Regions from separate parts of the Homo sapiens genome. Here region 2 is linked to region 1. Evidence: fine-mapped QTL for protein levels in blood plasma. A gene starts in region 1. The other region holds a variant in brackets. All regions are shown on one strand. Distances are from middle to middle.

Region 1 (10,642 bases):
GACTATCAACCTTTGAACCAAGTCAACATGTCTCAGTCTCCACCCAGATGGAGGCCTCCATTGGGCAGTGTCTTAATTTGTCTTCTGTTGTTTACAACAAAATACTTGAAATTGGGTAATTCACAAAGAAAAGGAATTTACTTCTTACAATTATGGAGGCTGAGAAGTCCAAAGTTGAGAGGTCACATCTGGTGAGGGCCTTCTGGCTAGTGGTGACTGCAGAGTGCCAGGGTACTTACGGTATCACATGGCGACAAAGCTGAGTGTGCTAATGTGCTAGCTCAGGTCTCAATTCCTCTTCTTATAAAGCAACCAGGCCCACTCCATGATAATCCAGTAATCCATGAATGAATAAATTAATCCATTCCTGAGGGCAGAGCCCTCATGACCCAGTCACCTTTCAAAGGCCCCACCTCTCAATACTGTCACATTGAGGATTAAGTTTCAACATGATTTTCAGAGGGGACAAATATTCAACCATAGCGGGCAACCTTGCACTCATCTGTCTTATGTTACTGCCTGTGACTCCTTCATCCATTTCTCTGGCCCCTTTGCTAATAGGTTGCTCTCTCAACCTTCTCCTGGGTCATGTTTTTGCTCAGAACAATCTCTCTTGATACCTCATTCTCAATATCCATTCTTTTTAGCCCTTTCAACCTGACTTAAATTCCAGATAAACAAAACATTCCCCACATTACAGAGATCTATATAACTCAGCTGTCTCTAACCCCATCCCTAAAATGACAAAAACAAAACACTCCTCTTTCCCCACAAAAAGCACAGCTAAACATTAGTCCTCTATGTCTCCCATCAATAAGTATTTCAAAGGTCTACACCATAACTTTTTTGCTCTGTGAACTACCTATGAGAGTTCAAGAAATCTCAGATTAACTGAATTGACAAACACTATTTGTTCACATTTTTTTTTCAGATACAATTACACCTTGACATTCCTGCAATATCAGGTGCAACATCTGGTCACACCTGACAGGAATATCCATGGAGAAAAAGGGCACCAACTGCAATTGTTTTTAATGGCAAAGATGCCATTGCTTTGAATCTTCCAGTTTCCAGTAACTTTGCAATATAAAGTTAGTAAGCCAAACTTTAAGAACGCCATGTAGAACTCAGTCCTTCAAGCAAATTAGATTACTGTTTGCCAAAGTCTATCTCCAAAGAACTATTAAAACAAGAACTCAAGTCCCAGAGCTCTTTAAAATATTGGAAGAAACTTCAATGTGGGTAATTGAAAGAACATCCCCTATCCAAACAGAATCCTCCTTTCTTTTTTTTTTTTTTTCCCCTTTCTTTTTTATTTATTTATTTATTTATTTATTTATTTTTTATTATACTCTAAGTTTTAGGGTACATGTGCACATTGTGCAGGTTAGTTACATATGTATACATGTGCCATGCTGGTGCGCTGCACCCACTAACGTGTCATCTAGCATTAGGTATATCTCCCAATGCTATCCCTCCCCCCTCCCCCAACCCCACCACAGTCCCCAGAGTGTGATATTCCCCTTCCTGTGTCCATGTGATCTCATTGTTCAATTCCCACCTATGAGTGAGAATATGCAGTGTTTGGTTTTTTGTTCTTGCGATAGTTTACTGAGAATGATGGTTTCCAATTTCATCCATGTCCCTACAAAGGACATGAACTCATCATTTTTTAAGGCTGCATAGTATTCCATGGTGTATATGTGCCACATTTTCTTAATCCAGTCTATCATTGTTGGACATTTGGGTTGGTTCCAAGTCTTTGCTATTGTGAATAGTGCCGCAATAAACATACGTGTGCATGTGTCTTTATAGCAGCATGATTTATAGTCCTTTGGGTATATACCCAGTAATGGGATGGCTGGGTCAAATGGTATTTCTAGTTTTCTTAATGAAACATTCTGAAGCCAACTAGCAAATGGTAATGTCTGCAGGTGGATTTTAATTAGAAAAGTAAAAGAGAGATGGAATTTACAAATCTCTTCTACCCTAAACCTCCCCCACCCCAGAAAAGGACCAGACAAAAGTTTTAATTCCAAAAACCTTGCATTTAAAGAGTCCTTATGCAACATAGAGAGTAACAGGATGGTTACCAGAGGCTGGGAAGGGTAGTAGGGGTCAGGGGAAGGTGGACACAGTTAACGGGTACCAAAAAAAAAAAAATAGAAGGAATGAATAAGACCTACCATTTGATAGCACAACAGGGTGACTATAACCTGTGATAACAGGTTATTATAGTCAATAATAACTTAATTGTACATTTTTAAATAACTAAGAGTGTAATTAGATTGTGTGTAATACAAAGGATAAATGCTTGGGGGGATGGATACCCCATTCTCCAAGATGTGATTATTACGTATTGCATGCCTGTACCAAAACATCCCATGTACCCCATAAATATATACACCTACTATGTACCCTCAAAAATTAAAAAATAAAGAGTCCCCATACAAAAGATATAAGTCACAGCATCCTTACAAGATAGAGATCAGTGACATGGGCAAGCAACCTCACCTCTTACAGGGGGCATGTACCATCCTTCTATAGTGAAGAAGCATTTCCGTAAGTTAAAATTGAGATGAATCATATGGTTTCAGCCCCTAGAGTATGGTATTTTAGATTCAGGTCTAATTCCATAGAAGGAAGCCCTTACTTTCTTCAGGAATGAGGCAGTTTGCCATTTACCAAGCACGCTGGCCCCACTCATATCCATTTGGAGGACTTCAAATGTTGATGACAAGACTAAAGACCAGGAGCCTGGAATTTTTTACTTTCCGCAGGTAGAGACTGTAAAGCACATTGACGGCAGACTCCTATAAACTAAGAAACTTGTAAACTGGTACCTGGAAGGCAATTAGGCAGAAGTTATCAAGAACTTTATCAAAAGTGCATCCTCTCTGACCTACCAATTGCACTTCCTGGAATGTCAACTAAGAACATGTGCAAAGATTTAGCTTTTTAAAAAGTGATTCACGCTATTATTTATAATAATGAAAAACCAGAAAAAGCCTTAATGGCCCAACACTGGTTGAGCATACTGTGGTACACCCACTATTATACAGGATAATAGCAGGATACAGTAGTATGCATCATTATAAATGATGTAGAAATACATTTATTGACATTGAAACATATTTACAATACACTATTCTGTGAAAAAAGCAAGTTATAAAACAGTATGTGCAGTGTAAACTCATCATTGTTAATAGACAGCAATAAAGATATGCAGAAGAAAAAACTCTGAAAATGTACGCAGAAAAATGTTTATCAGTGGTGGGAAAATGAGTGGTTGTTTTCTTTTTTAAAATTATCTGTATTTTCTGATTTTTTCCCCTTCAATGAACATATAATTAGAAATACTTGTATACTTAGAGATGGTTCTAAAAATAAGCAACCAAACAGTAAATTGCCTTATGTTCAAAGGGGCTCCCACATCTGCACTCCCGCTCTCATATCCGCTAAGCATTTTTTTCCTCAAGGGAGTGACCACCTGCCAGGGCCTCAGAAGATGCCTAGAGACAACGTCTTTCCTCACTCCCAAGCCACTCCAGCCCTGCTGCCTCCAAGGTCAGGTTCAGCGCAAGAGTAGGCTCAGAAACAACTCCGAGCCAGTCCCTGGGTCGCTGCCCCAGAATTTAAGCCCATCCTTCAATTTCCTCAGCAGTCAAATATCCCTGGTCACTTACCTCTCCCGAGGGCAGCGCCCCGCGCTTGACCTCCTCGTAAGCGCCTACCTGCTCCCAGGTGGCCAGGAAGGCGTGGGTGGGGGTAAAGCGCGCAGAGCGCGGGAAGCCAGCGCGCACATAGCGGGCGGCCAGGCCCAGCACTGCGGGGGAGGTGTCCTCTCGGTACAGGACTCGGCCTCTGCCGTGGCTCGTGTCGATGTCCGCCAGAAAAGGGGCGATGGCCGGGAAGTCGGTGGGGAAATCATAGTCCACATACTGCGTTTCCCTGGGGAAGTCCTGAGTGGAGATGATGCCGTTGGTGCCCACCTGGGAGAGGAGAGGGACAAAAAGGTGACAGTCGCTCAAGCCCAAGGACGCTACCCTTTCGCGCAGGGAGGGAAGGGAACTGACTTAGGCAAAAAGCCTCTCTCTCCTTCCCCACTGGCCAGGGAGTCTGGATTCAGGGAAACAAGCGCAACTTTTGCGACTGTCCCAGCTCCGCGCTGCAGTAGGTCCAGGGGCCCTAAAACTCGTTCACCTATCTTCTCACTCCCCTCACAACCCCGGAGCCCCATGTCCTCGGAGAGGAAGCCTCCAGGTCTGAAGAGGGAACACCCCAGCTCCGCAGACGGGCACAGCCTTCTCGCGGTCCTAACTGCAAAGCCCGCTGGCCGCCCTAGCAACGCCACCTTTTCTGCCTGGGACGCGTACGTGGCTGCGAACAATTCTTGCTCTCCCCTCCAGGTCATTCTTGCTCCCCTACAGCAGCGGGGCAGGCAGCGGCATCGCTCTCTGGCCGGGTACCACCGCAAGGGTGCTGGGGGGCTCCAGGAGTGGGGTCTGTTTCCTCCCCTCTGGAGGCAGGGTTTCCGTGAGACCGACCCCAGGGAAGAAGCTGCGGGAAAAGTGCCAGGAGGGGGCTGAACTTACGTAGAGGTTGCTGAATCGGGCTTCGTAGAAGTGCAGGGGATTCGCCAGCTTCACCACGGCTGAGCTTTCGTCGTCGCCTTCCTGCAGGAGCTGGTCCCCCCACGACTCCCCGTGTGGGAAGAGCTCGTCTGGGTGCAGCGCCGCGGCCCGCAACATTAGCAACGGCAGCAGCAGTAGCACTGGTAACGACGACAGCACCGGCCGCCCGGCCACCCGGTCCCCCTCCATGCTCGCTCGGCCGTGCGCTTACCCGCTGCACAACGCGTCCCGCCCCGGCCTCCAGCCCACTCTCCGCGCCGCGCCAGCCTCGAACCTGGATCTCCGCGGGCGCCTGGGCGGGGCGGGACTCCAGGCCCACCCAGCAAGCTAATTGGCTGAGGCCCTCGGCTGGGGACCAATCACCGGCTCTGAGAAAGTTCGGCAGTGGCCACCACATCTGGTTCTCGTTAACTTTTCTAAGGCAGCGGCCGCTGGAGCAGCGGGGCTGGCGGGGTAAAAGCTCCTGGCCAGGGCTGCCTGGAGCTGCCCCTTCCACTCCGCCCCCAGGGAGCTCCCGGGTCATCCTCTCATCCGGGCTGCCCCGCGGCCCCCAAGGAGCCCCACCCCCGGGACCAAATGGCCCGCAAGGTTTGGGGCAGCGGCGTTGCAGGAGATGAGCTCAGCGCAAAGGGAACCCCGCAGCGGCGAGTGCGGCTGCTGGCCTGCGCGCTGTGGCCCCAACAGGCTGGCAGGGCGCGGGCGGGTGGCGGGGTTGCGGTATGAGCTTTGCTCCCTGCCCTGGGGTCCCGGGCGCTCCTGGCTCTGGAGGCCTGGCCATCGGTCCGAAAAGCAAAGGGACATTGTCGTGGTCCCCTCGGCCGCTTCGCTCCACCCAGAGACGCCCTGAGGAGAAGCGAGCCTTTGTACGAAGGCAGAGGGCTGACTCCTAAGTTCTGTCCCCCTCCCGAAGGCCGGCCGCTAGGGAAGACTTGGCCACCCTCTGGAAGTACCTTCCCCCGGGAAAACCGCAGCAGGAAAGACCATGAAATACTACTGTGTGTGATCCGCTCCGTTTGGGGAGTAGGATGAGGCATCCCGCTTGGTTACCAGGCAGAAAGGGGCGAGTCGCGGGGATGGGAAGACCCTGATCTCTTGCCCATTGCTGCGGCCGTCGGAGATGCCCTCCCCCGCGGCCACGGAGGCGGTAACCTGAGCTGCTCCGCAGGACTGGAAACCGCACAACCTCGAAACCAGCTGCGCAGGAGAAGGGGAACCCCATCCACCATAAACATCCCCTCTGCGAAGCCTCAGGAGCTGGAGGAGATTTTATTACCATTTTTATTATCAAGAGCTTAAAATTTCCCAGACAGTCTGTTTTCTCTCCCAGGCCCCCCATGAGGTCCTTAAAAGCAAAGATATTTAAAAAGAACGAAAGAAAGAAAAAAACCAAAAAGCAAATCCTTGGAAATGCCTTAAAGGACTCTCCAGAGACACACTGCTCTTTGTAGGTGTTTATTCCTATGGGCCCACTGGACCAAACGCTAAAAAACGTGAAGACATCAGACTGTGAGACTCATAGAGCAGACACAAAATGGAAAACTGGCCCAAAGCAGTTTGCTTCCTCAGAGTGGAGAGTTGTATATTTGATGTTCCAAAAATATATTTATGCTTGCACATATATTTTCTCATTCTTTCTGGGGTCAGGTATTTTTATTTTACTGAGGATGAAATGAAAGTTCAAAGACAGATGACTTGACTTGCCCAACATCATCTGAAGTTACTCCCTGATATAAAACTACTGGCCCTCTGTAGTTTTACTTTATCTCTCGATTCAGCATAATAATAATAACTAACATTTATTTAGTGGTACTAAGCTATGAGCTTTGGGGCAAGCAAACACTGAGATGGTCTCCAATGATCCCCATTTCCTGGTGTTCATTCCCCTGTATAATCTCTGCCCTGGGAGTGTGGACTGGCCTTGTGATTTCTAACAAACATAGTGTGGCAAGAGTGATGAGAAGAAGGCTAAATAAGATTGTGGCTTCTTCCTTGTTAGTTGACTTTCCCTCTCATTGATTTTGATGAAGCAAGCTGTTATGTCGGGGAGGCCCACATAGCAAGGAACTGAGGAGGGCAGCCTCTGGCCAACAGTCAGCAAGGAACTGAATTCTGCCAACAACCATGTCAGTGAGCTTGGAAACGGATCCTTCCCCAGTTGGGTCTTGAGATGGTATCTCAGCGCTGGCTGACATTTGATTGCAGCCTTGCAAGAGACCCTGAAGCAGAGGACCCAGCTAAGCCAGGTGCAGATTCCAGACCCACCAAAACTGAGAATTATAGTTTTGGTTAGATTATAATTATAGTTTTGGTGGGATTCCAGACCAACCAAAACTGAGAATTACAGCTTCAGCTTCAGAAGCTGAAGAAGCTGTGTGTTGCTTTAAGCTATTACATTTTGGGATAATTTGTTATGCAGCAATAGACAACTGATAACAGGTAGTCGTTGTGTTAAGGAAACTAAAGCTCAGATGGGATTTTAAAAAAATCAGTTATTATCACATGGCTGGTAAGTACCAAAGCTGAGATTTGAACCCAATTCTGTCTGATCTCTAAACCTCCACTCCTAACCACTAAATTATATTGCAGCAAGGCCCTTTGGAAAGTAGCTCTAGTTTATGTCTCTAACTTTATCTCCCGTCACAGCCACCCTGAAGTCTCACCTGAAGCTGAGACTTTAATTCTCCAATACAACATCCTCACAGGTAAGTCCTTTTACCTACAGTAAAAGGTCAATTTCTTGGTCAATTTCAAGCCAACACCTTCTCATCTTTAAGGCTTGAATCAAAACCCTCCTCCTTCAGGAATCTGGGAAGAGAAAAGAATTCCCCACATCTTTTGCAAAAATCTCATTAATAATCCACCCCATTTAGCTTATAATCAATAAATAACCATAAGTATAATCAGTCAAGCAGCCGACGCCACTGCTCTGCCTATTCTTTTGTTTCTTTACTTATCTAATAAAGTCACTTTCACTTTACTTTGTAGACTCACTCCAAATTCTTTCTTGCACCAGATCCAGGAGCCCTCTCTTAGGGTCTGGATCAGGAACTCTTTCCAGTAACACTACTGCCCCCTTTTGAGCTATGTATTCATCCTTGAAACTGCTTGCTATTGCCACAAGTAACTATACATTAACCTAATAATGTCACACTGGACACTATCACTCATAGCCTATAGCTTAACAGTGCATAGCCAATCAGTGAGCAATGTTGTTTCTGTAAACCAATGTGAATTCCTTACAAACAATTTCATATCGGCCTACTCCCTGTCCCCCTTTTCTGCCTGTAAAAAACCTGCTTGTAATAAAGGCGGCATGAAGCTCATATCCAGGGTTACTTGGGTCTAAGTCTTCCGGGCAACTGTCCTCACTTTGGCTCAAGTAAATGTTTTGTTATATTTTGTGCCTCTGTCTTTTCCTTTCAGGTGGACGAAGCTTTCCTGGAATCCACAGTCTGATTTAGAAGCCCTTTCTCCTTGCTTCCATGTGCCCTGTGCTTGCCGTGATCATACCTCCTATCACACATCTCTCCCATAATCCTGATCTCCACATGCTTCCCTTACCACCACCACCACCACCACCACCACCACACCTGGAGGGCAGGGATTTTGCCTTCTTCAGTGTCTGCCGCAATGCCTGCCTGGCTCACTTGAAGTGTAAGAAATGTTTGTTGAATGAGTGAAGACAAGCAAGCCAGCCTGGGACTAGGACCCATGTCTGCTGGCTCAGAATGCAACATTCTTTCCCCTACACCACCTTTCCTGCTAATCTGACCTGACTCTTGTAATCCTCTTTACCAGGCTGCCTAGCAACTCACCTACCACTGCTCTCCCATTTTTGTCATTCTTTCATTCATTCATCCATTCAACAACAATTTCCTGAAAGTACACCATGACAAACACAACTCTGCAAGAAATAAAGGAGTACAAAATGTGGCCCCTGACCTTAAAGAGCTCATGATCTGGTTGGGGAAACAGAGCATAAGAGGATGTCACTAGTTTTGAATCTGATGCAATCTGAGTACAAAAAAATAGTTCCAATAGAGAAGATGCTAAAACGAACAGTTTTGTTTTCCTGTCTGCATAAAGTGGCTGAATTCTCCCTGAAATAGGAGGCTTTGGACAGCTGTGCTTAAGAGAACATGCCTTTGAGCTTTTATTCTGATATTATTTTTAAAAGACGCTATGGCACCAAGAGTGGTTTCTTCTTTAAAATGTCATTTTGTGTCTTGGGGAAAAAGAAAAAAATCTGCCGTGGCTCTTTCACCAGTCAAAGTAAATACTGAAGAAATACTTTGCTTGTATCCACAGCTCTCTTTGCAAGAGTAGAATTTCCATGACCTGCCAGACTGGCTGAAGAGGCAAAGGCCCCTTTCAGGCTGGGGGTTATAGAGGACGTCTGTAGCAGTTTTTACCCTTCTTGGATTGGATCCTCAGGGTACATCACAGCATTGCTTGAAAAGTAAGATTATTTAGATACAGGGCTTTTCATCAAGCCAAGGATGCTACCAGATGCCTTGCCAATAGACCTTATCAAGAGTCTCCACAGTTACATATTTTTTGTGGTTATATTGTTGTTATAAATACCAAGACTTCAAGAATGATGATACTTCCTGTTATTTTAATCATGAGAATGGAAGCATATTTGCTCCACAGTGTGGCAAATGGATGTTGGTATTTAAGAGCAAGTTCTATGTATAGCACCGATGGGTGTGTGTACATGTTTGTATTGGAGGTGGGCTTGGCAGGAAATGTCCCAGTTCTTGTTGCACACAGTGATTCTTTGCATAATTTTACTATCCATTAAATTCCAGGGTGTGTGTGCTAGCATGTAGAGAAAATAGACTCGAACAAGTTAGTATGTCTTCACAGACTCAGGCTTAATTGAAAGTAGGTTAGGCCTAAGGAGAACCATGAAGTGAGAAAGTATTTAAATTAAAATGTGCAATATGAAAAGACTGTTCAAGCTTTTGATATGAATCACTGCAGATGCAATTCTGCTGTGACATTTTTAAGTAGAGAGAGGGTTGGTGTGGCAGACACTATTGGAACCTCTCCCAACAGCCATCCCCTCTTTTTTTTTTTTTTTTTTTTTTTTTTTTGGTTTTAGAAACCCCATATTGTTCAGGTAAAGGGTGCAATAAGCCCGGGAATGATGGGTTGCTTCCTCAGCCCTGGCAGATGCCCTAAGATTGGTGGAAGCCAATCATGATTAAGCCTTTCACCCTTATAGTGATACAGTCTCCTGTAACTTCAACCCTTCCCTCCCTGTTGGCCTCTTCCCCTCTGCCTCTAAATCCCCTCTGCCCAGTCTTACCCATAAAAATAAAAAACAAATTTCCCTACTTATTTGTTGCCTTAGTTTTATTTCTCTTACTTTCAAAAACTCTACTGGAAAGGAATTTATACTTCCTGCCTCCTTCTTTCCACTGCAAAAATAATCTTCCCAACCCCATCACTGAACTGCTCAGGGAAAGACCAACAGCAAAATCATATTACCAAACCCTATAGGTAGTTTTTGTTTTTATCTTACTGGGCCTTTTTGTTTCTGATCCTACTGACCACTCATTTCTAGAAATTCTCTACTCCCTTGACTTTTCCAGCCATTTTGTTGTAGTATCTCCTGTGAATTTCTCATGCTCTGCTTCCGATGTCTAAATGTATGGCATGACCATGGCCTACTGCTCTTCTCATGTCATGCTGTCCTGGAGTGTCTTGACTCCTCTGATGGCCCAGCTTCCCACCTATATTCTAATGACTCTCAAATATATCCCCAGGCCTGAGCCTTCACTTAAGTTTAGAACTAACATCCAGCTCCCTGCTGAACATCTCCCCGAGACAATACCTAAGTCTTCATCTAGCATAACTAGATTCAATACTCAGTATTTCTGAGTTTTCCATTTTAGTCCATGGCAACAATATTTGCCCTTTCTCGATTACCATTGGCCTATCTCAGGTCCTCACCAACTGTCACCTGCTAGCTTTTGTGGCAGAAATGATAGGTTCATTTC
Region 2 (9,913 bases), 33 kb before region 1:
CTTGATAGCCAGCTTAGCATCCTCTGAGTCCCATCCTGCTCACCAGTTCTCACTACTCACAGACACCAGCATCATGGCATCTGTAGGCAGACACTGGCAGTACCACCCATTTTACCACCTCCTCCTGGATTCTCTATCATTTCACTCTTTCTGACCCGTGTCTCCCACCCCACTTTGTACAGAATCTTCTATTAAAATGGAGAAATAACAACAGGAGAGAATCAGGTTCTTGTCTTATACTGAGCCTTCAATGAGGACATGACCCTGTTGTTCTCCATTGTAACAGATGCTGACTCAGGAACCTGGTCTATACTCTCAAGTTAACTTGGCAACCACAACCCCACTGCTATGGGGGGAGACTTGCCCAGAGTGACTCCTAATCTAGATCCCAAGTGCTGACTGCTGCAGCTGACCTCATAGACTGGACTCGCTCCCAAGTCCTTCAGGGTGTCTGGCATTCTCCCCCGTGCCTGCCCTACTGCCCACGTTATGGCTCTTCCAGTGCCCTGTCATAGCCTGCTGTGAGCTGGGATGCCTTGGCTGAGACAGCCTTGTTTTCTGGTAAACTCTTTCCATCCCACTTTATAAGAAACACCACAGTGCATTCTTGTAGTGGAATATTCCCGTATTATTGATTCCCGTATTATTGGCTGAAAATAAGGAGGGCTATGGGTTTATCCTCAGTTCACCACAATGTTGTCGGCTGGAGTAACAGAATCTTTGCCAAAACAAAGGACCAATAAATAATTCCAGCACTTTTTAAACCTGATGAACTATGTCAGCATAAGCCTAGCTCCCTGAAGCATGCAGACATCCTTGGAGGTCCGTTCCTCTGGATCTCTTGGCTGACAGGAAAGAGGCACCGCACTGGGGTTGTGGTTGCCGAGTTAACTTGAGCCTAGACCAGGTTCCTGAGTCAGTCCTCAATAGGTTATAACTAAGGACAAGGTCATGTCTTCATCCATTAGGACCCAATGTAAGACAAGAACGTGATCATCTCCCATCATTTCTCCATTTTAGGAAGATTCTGTACAAAATGCCTGGCATACCCCACCAAAGCAGGAAGTAATTGTCAACATGTTTTGATTTATAAATACTAATGCTTAGCCTTCTTATTCAGTACTTTCCAGCATCAAAATTTCACCATGGCACATTCCAGCAAAGATTAGTGTGTTCACATGGACATCAAGAGCTTACCACCCTGCTAGGCATTAAAAGAAAAAAAAAAAATCTCAGCTCAAAAGTTGACTTGCAAACTTGGACAGGATATATTATCCTACCTAAAATTGAGAAGAAAGTGTCCCTAATTACTCAATACTGATTTAAAATGTATGTCACTGACAGGATTAGTTCCATAATTTGCAATCCCCAGTGCAAAATGAAAATGTGGAGCCCATGGTTCAAAGCAAAGCGTTAAACCAAGCATGGGGCTCTTCTGAGCACAGGGCCCCATTCACTGAACTTGGCTTCCCAAAACATTTTTAAAATACATTTCTAAAACCATTTCACGACTCATTCTCTATGACTTGTAAGCTTTTCTCCTATTATAGTAAGTAAAGAACACAGTATCCTTCTTAAGACATTTTCTATTTCGCCCTCACCCTCTTAAACTGCCTGACTCTCTTAACAGAGGATCTGGAACTAATTTACTCATTTAATCAAGGGGAAGAGCGGTTTTCCTTAAAGGAACAGTCCCTTCAGCTTCACTGCACAGCCCTCTGCCCAGAGCCTCCTCAACTCGCCAAAAGGACCCGTGAAGTGGAAGGACAGGAAGCATTTTTGGATCGTGTTTTATGACCCCACAAAACAACCAACCAACCAACAACAACAAAAAACAGCTGACTCACACTTAAAGCTTAAAGCTCAAACAACTGGTGGGGGGTGGCACTGCTGGTTGAGAAGTCACCGAGGGACAGAGGCTCCAATTACTCACTGGGAAAGACACCCCAGTTCTGCATCCTCGCCCTGGGAAGTCGCACCACACCCACATCAGGTGTGGACAGCTGCGCTGTTTCACATGAATTCCAACAACTATCGTTCCCTCTGGAAAAACTGAGCAGTTCTTAGGAAGATACTGCTGTGTACCAAGAGGGGAAAGAAAAAACTTTTGGGTGTTTCTTTTTTGTTTTTCTTTTTTTCCCTCCTATTCAGGTAGAATGAACAGTACTGCTGTGTGTGGATGAAGTAGGGTTCAAACACAAAGGGTTTAAAAGACACACATTGCCTCTTTCAAAGTTTGGTCTAAATTATGAGGCAGTCATGAGGCCACTGTGGAACAGCAGAGCCATGAGGGGTAAGGGTGTGCGTACTGGAGCCAGTGCCTGAGTTTGAGTCCCAGCTCACCCAGGTCACTTACTATGACCAGGCAAATTACTTCATTTCTATACCTCAGTCTCATCATCTGTAAAATGGGATAACAAATAACCCCACCCCCACCCCACCATTGGGTAGAGGTCATTGTGGGGATTAAATGAGTTAATTCATGTAAGGTGCTTAGAACAGTACTTGGCACCAAGTAAACCATCCTTTGATATTATTATTTGACTGGGGTGGGAGGGAAAATCATAAAATTCTAAAGAAAACAAGCAACTTGGTACCTGCCAGTTTGCTTTCTCTGATCCTTTCTTACTCTCATTTGGTATGTCTCTAGGAAAAATATACCCAGAGACACATCTTTTTCCTAAATGGTTCCAGAATCTGAATGGGACTCCATAGCCTGGGAAATTTCACTAACAGTTGCTTTTACAGATCAGATGCCTACACCCAACACAGGGCTGACCTGGACATTTAAAGGTAAAGACCATTCTCCCCAGTAGGTTTAAATCTCTCTTTGAGAAATCTACTACAGCAATCTTTCCCTTTCTAATTTACATGTTCCTCTAAAATCAACTCACATTTTCATGTGTTCATTTGCTACCTTACAATCCAATATCTGGGCACCTAATGCCTACATTCCCAACCAAGTTTCTTAAAACCAAAGCACCTCGGGATTCTCATTACAAGTCACTTTCGCATCCTAGAAAAGAGTCTAGTCCTTGTACCTTAATCTTGTCATATTGCTGAAGCAACACTTCTTTATTGAGCCTGCTGAGGCTTAAGGAGCCCTCAGCTCCAATAACAAAGCACAGAACCGCGTATCACTTACAGATTCACCTCACTGAGGAGCTAACTCTGGGCTCAACAGTTTCAATACAGTGGCTGAATTGAGGAAGATGGTTTTTTTCTCCTGGTGTGGCTCTTACATTCTAGGGGAAAACATGACCTGGTTTTCAGAATTAAAATGTCCCCTTGATCTGACAAAGCCACTTCCCATCTGTAGAGTTCCCTGACTTCACAAGCTCATCCTCTGGCTTGCTTGAAACATTTTTTAATAATTAAGACCTTGCTTTTTAGGATGGTTTTACATTTAGAGAAAAATGGAGCAGAAAGTACGAGCTCCCATATCCCCCCACCCAAAATGTGCAGTTTCCCCTATTATCAACATTGTGCATTAGTGTGGTGCATTTGTTATCCCCAATCAATACTGACACATTATTAACTAATGCCCATAGTCTGCAGTAGGGCTCACTCTTGGTGTTGGACAGTTCTATAGACTGACAAACGCATAATGGCCTATAACCAACATTACAATATCATACAGAATAGTTTCACTGCCCTAAAAATCCCATGTTCCACCTATGCATCCTTCTCCTTCTTCCTCCTGAACCACTGGCAACCACTGATCTTTTTACTGTCTCTATAGTGTAACCTTTTCCAGAATGTCATGGTTAGAATGATTCTGTATGTAGCCTTTTCAGACTAGCTGCTTTCACAGAGCAACATGCTTTTAAGTTTCCTGCATGTCTTTCTGTGACATGATATGCCTAGAACATTTTAAAATCAGTCTTCACAGGTGAGGCTAATGGTCATTAAAATTTGAGAACCACTGCTTACTTTGAGACGGGGTCTTGTTATGTGGCCAACTCTGGCCTCAAACTCCTGGGCTCAGGTGATCCTCCCACCTCAGCCTCCAGAGTAGCTGGGATTACAGGTGTAAGCCACTGTACCCGATGAGAATGGTTTTAGAGTTTTGTTTCTACTACTATTTGCTTCCATTTATTTTTATTTTTTGAGACGGAGTCTCACTCTGTTGCACAGGCTGGAATGCGATGGCACAATCTTGGCTCACTGCAACCTCCGCCTCCTGGGTTCAATCAGTTCTCCTGTTTCAGCCTCCTGAGTAGCTGGGACTACAGACACATGCCACCACACCTGGCTAAATTTTTTTGTGTATATATATATATATATATATATGTTTTATTTTGTAGAGACAGGGTTTCACCATGTTGGCCAGGCTGGTCTTGAACTCCTGACCTCAGGTGATCCACCCACCTCAGCCTCCCAAAGTGCTGGGATTACAGGCATAAGCCAGTATGCCTGGCCTTCAGTTGAGAAGTAATTCACATACCATACAATTCATCCGTTTAAAGTACATAATTAAACAATTTCGTCTATTCAGTGTTATCCAACCGTCACCACAATCAATTTCAGAACATTTTCATCACCCCCAAAATTAACCCTGTACCCTTTAGCTATTAACGCCCTATGCTCTCATTATCTCTTAGCCCTGGGCAACCATGAATATGCTTTCTATGTATGTGGATTTGCCTATTTTGGATATTTCACATAATTGTAACCATTCAGTATGCTGTCCTTTGTCACTGACTACCTTCACTTAAGGTTTTCAGAGTTCATCCATGTTGCAGCATGTATCCGTACTTCATTCCTTTTTATGGTTGAATAATATTCCAGTATATGAATATATTTTTTGGTGTCCATCAACTGATGGGCATGTATGTTGCTTCCACCTTTTGGCTATTATGAATACTGCCACTATGAATATACACGAATAAGTTTTTGTGGGGATCTATGTTTTCATTTCTTTTGGGTATATAGAAAGGAGTAGAATTGCTCCATTAAATGGTAACTTTGTGTTTCACTTTGAGAAACCACTATTTTGTTTTTCACAGTAGCCACATCATTTTATAATCACACCAGCAACGTATGAGGGTTCCGAATTTTCCATGTTCTCGCCAACACTTGTTATTACCCGTTTTTTGATTATACTCGACCACATGATGTAAAGTAGTATCTCATTGTGGTTTTGATTTGCATTTCCCTGATGACTAATGATGCTGAGCATCTTTACACATGCCCATTGGGTATCTGTATATCTTTTTGGAGAGAGGTCCTTGCAGAGCTTTTGCCCATCTTTTAGTTAGCTTGTTTTTTTATTGAGTTGTAAGATACTTCGTATACTCTAGAACAAATATCACATGATTTAAAATACTGTCTCCCATTCTATGGCTGTGTTTTCACTTTGTTAATAATGTCCTCTGAAGCACAAACTGTTAAAATTTTGATGACACCCAGTTTATTTTGCTGTTGCTTGTGCTTTTAGTGTCGTACCTAAGAAACCATTAGCAAATTCAAAGTCACAAAAATTTACCCATATGTTTTCTTCTAAAAGTTTTAACTCTTACACTTAGGTCTGTTGGCCCATTTTGAGTTGGATATGCTGTGAGGTAAAAGGTTCAACTTCATTCTTTTGTATGTGGTCACTCAGTGGTCCCAGCACCATAGTTAACAATAGTTTAAAAGACTATTCTTTCTCCATTGAATTGTTTTGGCACTGTGTTTTTTGTTTTGTTTTGTCTTTTAACCATCAGAATTCTATTATTATTATACTTTAAGTTTTAGGGTACATGTTTACAACGTGCAGGTTTGTTACATATGTGTACATGTGCCATGTTGGTGAGCTGCACCCATTAACTCGTCATTTAGCATTAGGTATATCTCCTAATGCTATCCCTCCCCACTCCCGGCACTGTTGTTGAAAAAGCAATTGACTTTTAATGTGAGTATTTCTGGGTTCCCACTTCTGTTCCTTTGATCTTTACATGTATCCTTACGCCAGGACCACACTGTCTTGATTACTCTAGATTTCGAGTTTGAGAAATACAAGTCTGACTTTATTCTTTTCCAAGATTGTTTTGGCTATTCTGTGTTCTTTGAATTTCCATATAAATTCTAGAATCAGCTTGCCAATTTCTTCAAAGAGCCAGCTGAGATTCTGATAGGGATTATGTTGAATTAATAGATCAATTTGGGAAGTATTCACATCTTAACAGTATTAAGTCTTCCAATCCATGAATGTGGAACATCTTCCCATTTAACTGGGTCTTAAATTTTTTTCCAAAAATGTTTTGTGGGATGCAATGTACAAGTACTGCACTTCTTTTTAAAAATTTATCTCTTTTTGAAACAATTTCTTAATCTTTAGTTTGCTCATTGCTACTATAGAGAAATACAATTTGGTGTACTGATCTTGCATATCTTATAACATTGCGAACTTGTTCTTTAGTTCTAATAGTGTTTTAGTGAATTCCTGAGATTTTCTACACAAAATGTCATCTGAGACTAATTTTACTTTGTCCTTTTCCAATTTAGATGGCTTTTATTTTGTGTTCTTGCCTAATCACCCTGGCTAGAAATTCTAGTACTGAATTGAATAAAAGTGGCAACAGCAGACATCCTTGTCTTGTTCCTAAGCTTCAGGGAAAAGCATCCAGTCTTTCACCATTAAGTATAATGTTCTGGGAATCATGGAGGGGGAGGTTATACATCAAGTTCTATGATGTTTGGTTTTTCCAGATACTAGCTCTTTGCTCCACCTTAGTTTTGGATGAAATTCTTCTCATCTGTTTTAGCTAAAATGTCACTTTCTTGGGGACATCTTTTCTGAATCTTCAAACTAGACTCACAGTGCCCTGCTCTCATCACACTTGTAACAAATACTTGTCAGCATCACTCTCCCTCCTAATTCCAGTCTGCCTTGTTCACAGGTATATTCCTGATTGGCACGCACAGTTGGGTATTGCTATAAACCAGCTTCACATACTATGCTCTATTTCCTGACTTTGGCAGGGACACTGTTCCCTGCCCTAAAACTCTTTTCTGCCTCTGTTTCCAACTCAAGGGCAAGGATCTGCTCTATTCATCCTTATACCTAGCACATAACACAGCATGGCACTAGGTAACCCTTAGTAACCTCTGTGAATCATTCTAACTCTACTTAAAAGGATGTCATTTTTACCCAACAACAAAAAAGGAAACCTTACCTTTGACCGGGCCAATTTGATTGGTCACAGCAAATCTAAGCACTCTTTCTTCGTCATTATACAAGGCAAAGACCCGGTCCACGTTCAGCTGCTGGGTGGTGGGGAAGGACGGGTGTCTGGGGGCGTGCCTGCACACCTGGTAAGTGATGTTCTGGTGGATGCGGTAGGACCATGTTTGGTTGATTGCACCAAAAGTCAGAGAGTAGTCTCTGGAACTTGTAGAGGTCACAGCTGCAACAAACACAGTGGTAATTTTTTAAAAATATTAAATACAGAGATTTTCATGTGAGGTGGATTTTTCTGCAGTTTTTTTCATCTAATTCTTGGAGTGTGTTCCCTTGGGAACCTCCTGAGTTTATATGAAAAAATGTGTAAGGAAATCCCAAAAACCTGAGTGGATGCAAAGCCACAGTGCTGAGAGGGAGAAGGCACTACAATTGTCCATGTTATTATACACAAAGAATAAGTGTTACTAAGGGCCAGCCATGCCAACAGTGCTCTCTACATACTGCCTCATTTATTCCTCACAACAGCCTGGTGAGGTGGGCACTAAATCATGTGATCAGAGGCTCACAAAGGTTAAGTAGCCTAAGATGCAATGCTGCCACATGGTAGAGCTGGAACTGAAACTCACATTGGTTTGACTCTACACCCTAAATTTTAAACCAATCCATCTTCTACATTTCACAGAAGTGACGACTTCCAACACCTCGCACTTCAGTAAATCTGAAGGATTCCAGAGAAGGGAAAGGGTTGTCTCTCACCATCTGAGTCTAGGAGTCAAGCTCAGGTCAGTGATCCGGACACTGACCATTTTGTTCACAGCCCAGGTCTCTGCTTCCCCTTGTCTTCCCTACATCTCCTGCCAGGCTGCCAGCTCTCAGCATAGGAGCAGCAGGGGTCAGAGGAAAGGCACAACTCAATCCGGATTGCTGTGCTGCACAACAGCAGCTGTGATGGAGGCAGCATCCTGTGCGCAGGTAGTACTTTCACAGAACACATCACGCTTCGCACACATTGATCACATAATATAGAAAAAGCATTTTTAGTTCCATGTGAAAGATGAGAAAATACATTCTCAGATATTAAGAGGCCTTTCCCTATAGATATTAAATGGCAAGTCCAGGATATAAATTCTTATCTTTTGACTCCAAATCTAGCATTAGTTTTATAATAAATTATAGCATCTCTGTGTTTTTTGGTTTTGTTTTTGAGATGGAGTCTTGCTTTGTCGCCCAGGCTGGAGTACAATGGCACAATCTCGGCTCACTGCAACCTCCACTTCCCAGGTTCAGATGATTCTCCTGCCTCAGCCTCCCAAGTAGCTGGGATCGCAGGAGCGTGCCACCACACCCTGCTAATTTTTGTATTTTTAGTAGAAACAGGTTTTCACCATGTTGGCCAGGCTGGTCTTGAACTCCTGACCTCAGGTGATCCACCCACCTTGGCCTCCCAAAGTGGTGGGATTACAGGCATGAGCCATTGCACCTGGCCTCTTTCTGTGATTTTTTTTTTTTTTAAAGCAGCCTGAACTCATCAGCTGAAACAAGGTTGAGATAAATATAAATTCCAATAATCACTATTTTTCCATGTTGCAGAAAGTAGGATGGTTAAAAACTGTATATAATTATACCATCCCTACCCACCCCATGGACAATGTTGCTATTGATTTTATTATTTGAAAATACTATGTAGGGATATAGATATTCTTATGTATAGCAGCCATTCTGCTCACTTACACGATATATTTCATGGTAACAATAAGAGTAATAACATAATAGAGCTCATTTTATGTTCCATGCACTGTTCTAAGGACATGCCATGTAAGTCATTTAAGCCTTGTATCTATCTTGTGAGATGGGCATAATCCCCATTTTACAGATGTGAAGACTGGTTATACATACTGGAGTCGGAGTAGTGGTACAGCTCCTTGTAGGGAGAGATGTGGGCTGTGAAATTTGCTGAGACGTAAGGCACCTGGCCTTGAATGTTGGTCTTAATGCTCAGGTAGTTCTCTGGGTCAAGT[C/A]CCTCAGCAGTTTGAGTGATACGAACCGTCTCCTCTCCCGGGTAGAATGTAACTTCCATGTCATGGGTAAAGGCAGCACCTGGAGATGAAAAACATTCAGCACAGGGATGAAAAGAGGTCTTGCTTAAACAGTTACCAGTATATACTGCCCGCTCCCAATTTCTACTGCTGTTGGAGATCGTGCCTAAGGAGATTATCTGATATCTGAGAGTAAGCACTATCAGCTGTTGATTCCATAAGTTCCCAAACTTTTCCATTGAAGAATATGGTTTCATCCTGCCTTACCTCACCCAGCTTCTCTTTGAACAAGCTTGTATTCTGTGAGAAATACTCTTGGGAACGTCCTTGACTTTTCTCTAAGGTTGCTAGACTTAGCAAAAAACAAACAAACAAATAAACCTAACAACAAAAAAACAAAAACAAATAAACTACCACCTAAGACATTCAGGGTTTTGTTTGAATTTCAGATAAGTATGTCTCATGAAATATGTGGGTAATACTTATACTAGAAAATTGTTTATCTGAAATACAAATTTATCCAGGTGTGCCATTTTTTATCTACTTTTGACCCAAGGGCTTTATTCAAATTTTGATTAAAGCAAGAACCTATTAACAGCTACCGAGCTCTGCAGTTAAAGATGGAGAAAGAACTTCTCACAAAACTATTTTTAATGCAATAAAGATAAAACCTCTAGCAAACAAGTTTTCAGGTTGGAAGGTGAGAATC

The links. PIP is the chance, under the fine-mapping model, that this variant and not a neighbour inherited with it causes the effect. Protein levels are from antibody-based Olink assays in UK Biobank. Linkage for the fine-mapping came from a reference panel and not from the study's own genotypes, which makes the PIPs less certain.
Region 2: its variant is fine-mapped to the plasma level of the NID2 protein (UK Biobank, PIP above 0.99). The variant lies in the coding sequence of NID2. If it changes the protein, the assay may bind it differently, which can mimic a change of level.

What each region holds. Positions count from the first base shown.
Region 1 is chr14:52,064,172-52,074,813 of GRCh38, forward strand. It overlaps NID2 (nidogen 2), which reads right to left and starts at 4,888. Exons shown (of 22, transcript NM_007361.4): 1 at 4,596-4,888; 2 at 3,687-3,992. The coding sequence starts at 4,823. LOC105378180 (a long non-coding RNA gene) reads left to right here and starts at 5,065. Exons shown (of 2, transcript XR_943864.4): 1 at 5,065-7,336; 2 at 8,058-9,976.
Region 2 is chr14:52,031,587-52,041,499 of GRCh38, forward strand. It overlaps NID2 (nidogen 2), which reads right to left. Exons shown (of 22, transcript NM_007361.4): 8 at 9,065-9,265; 9 at 7,161-7,391. Among named protein-coding and RNA genes, the nearest start is that of NID2, 33 kb to the right of the region's middle. The variant C/A (reference allele first, on the strand shown) is at 9,187.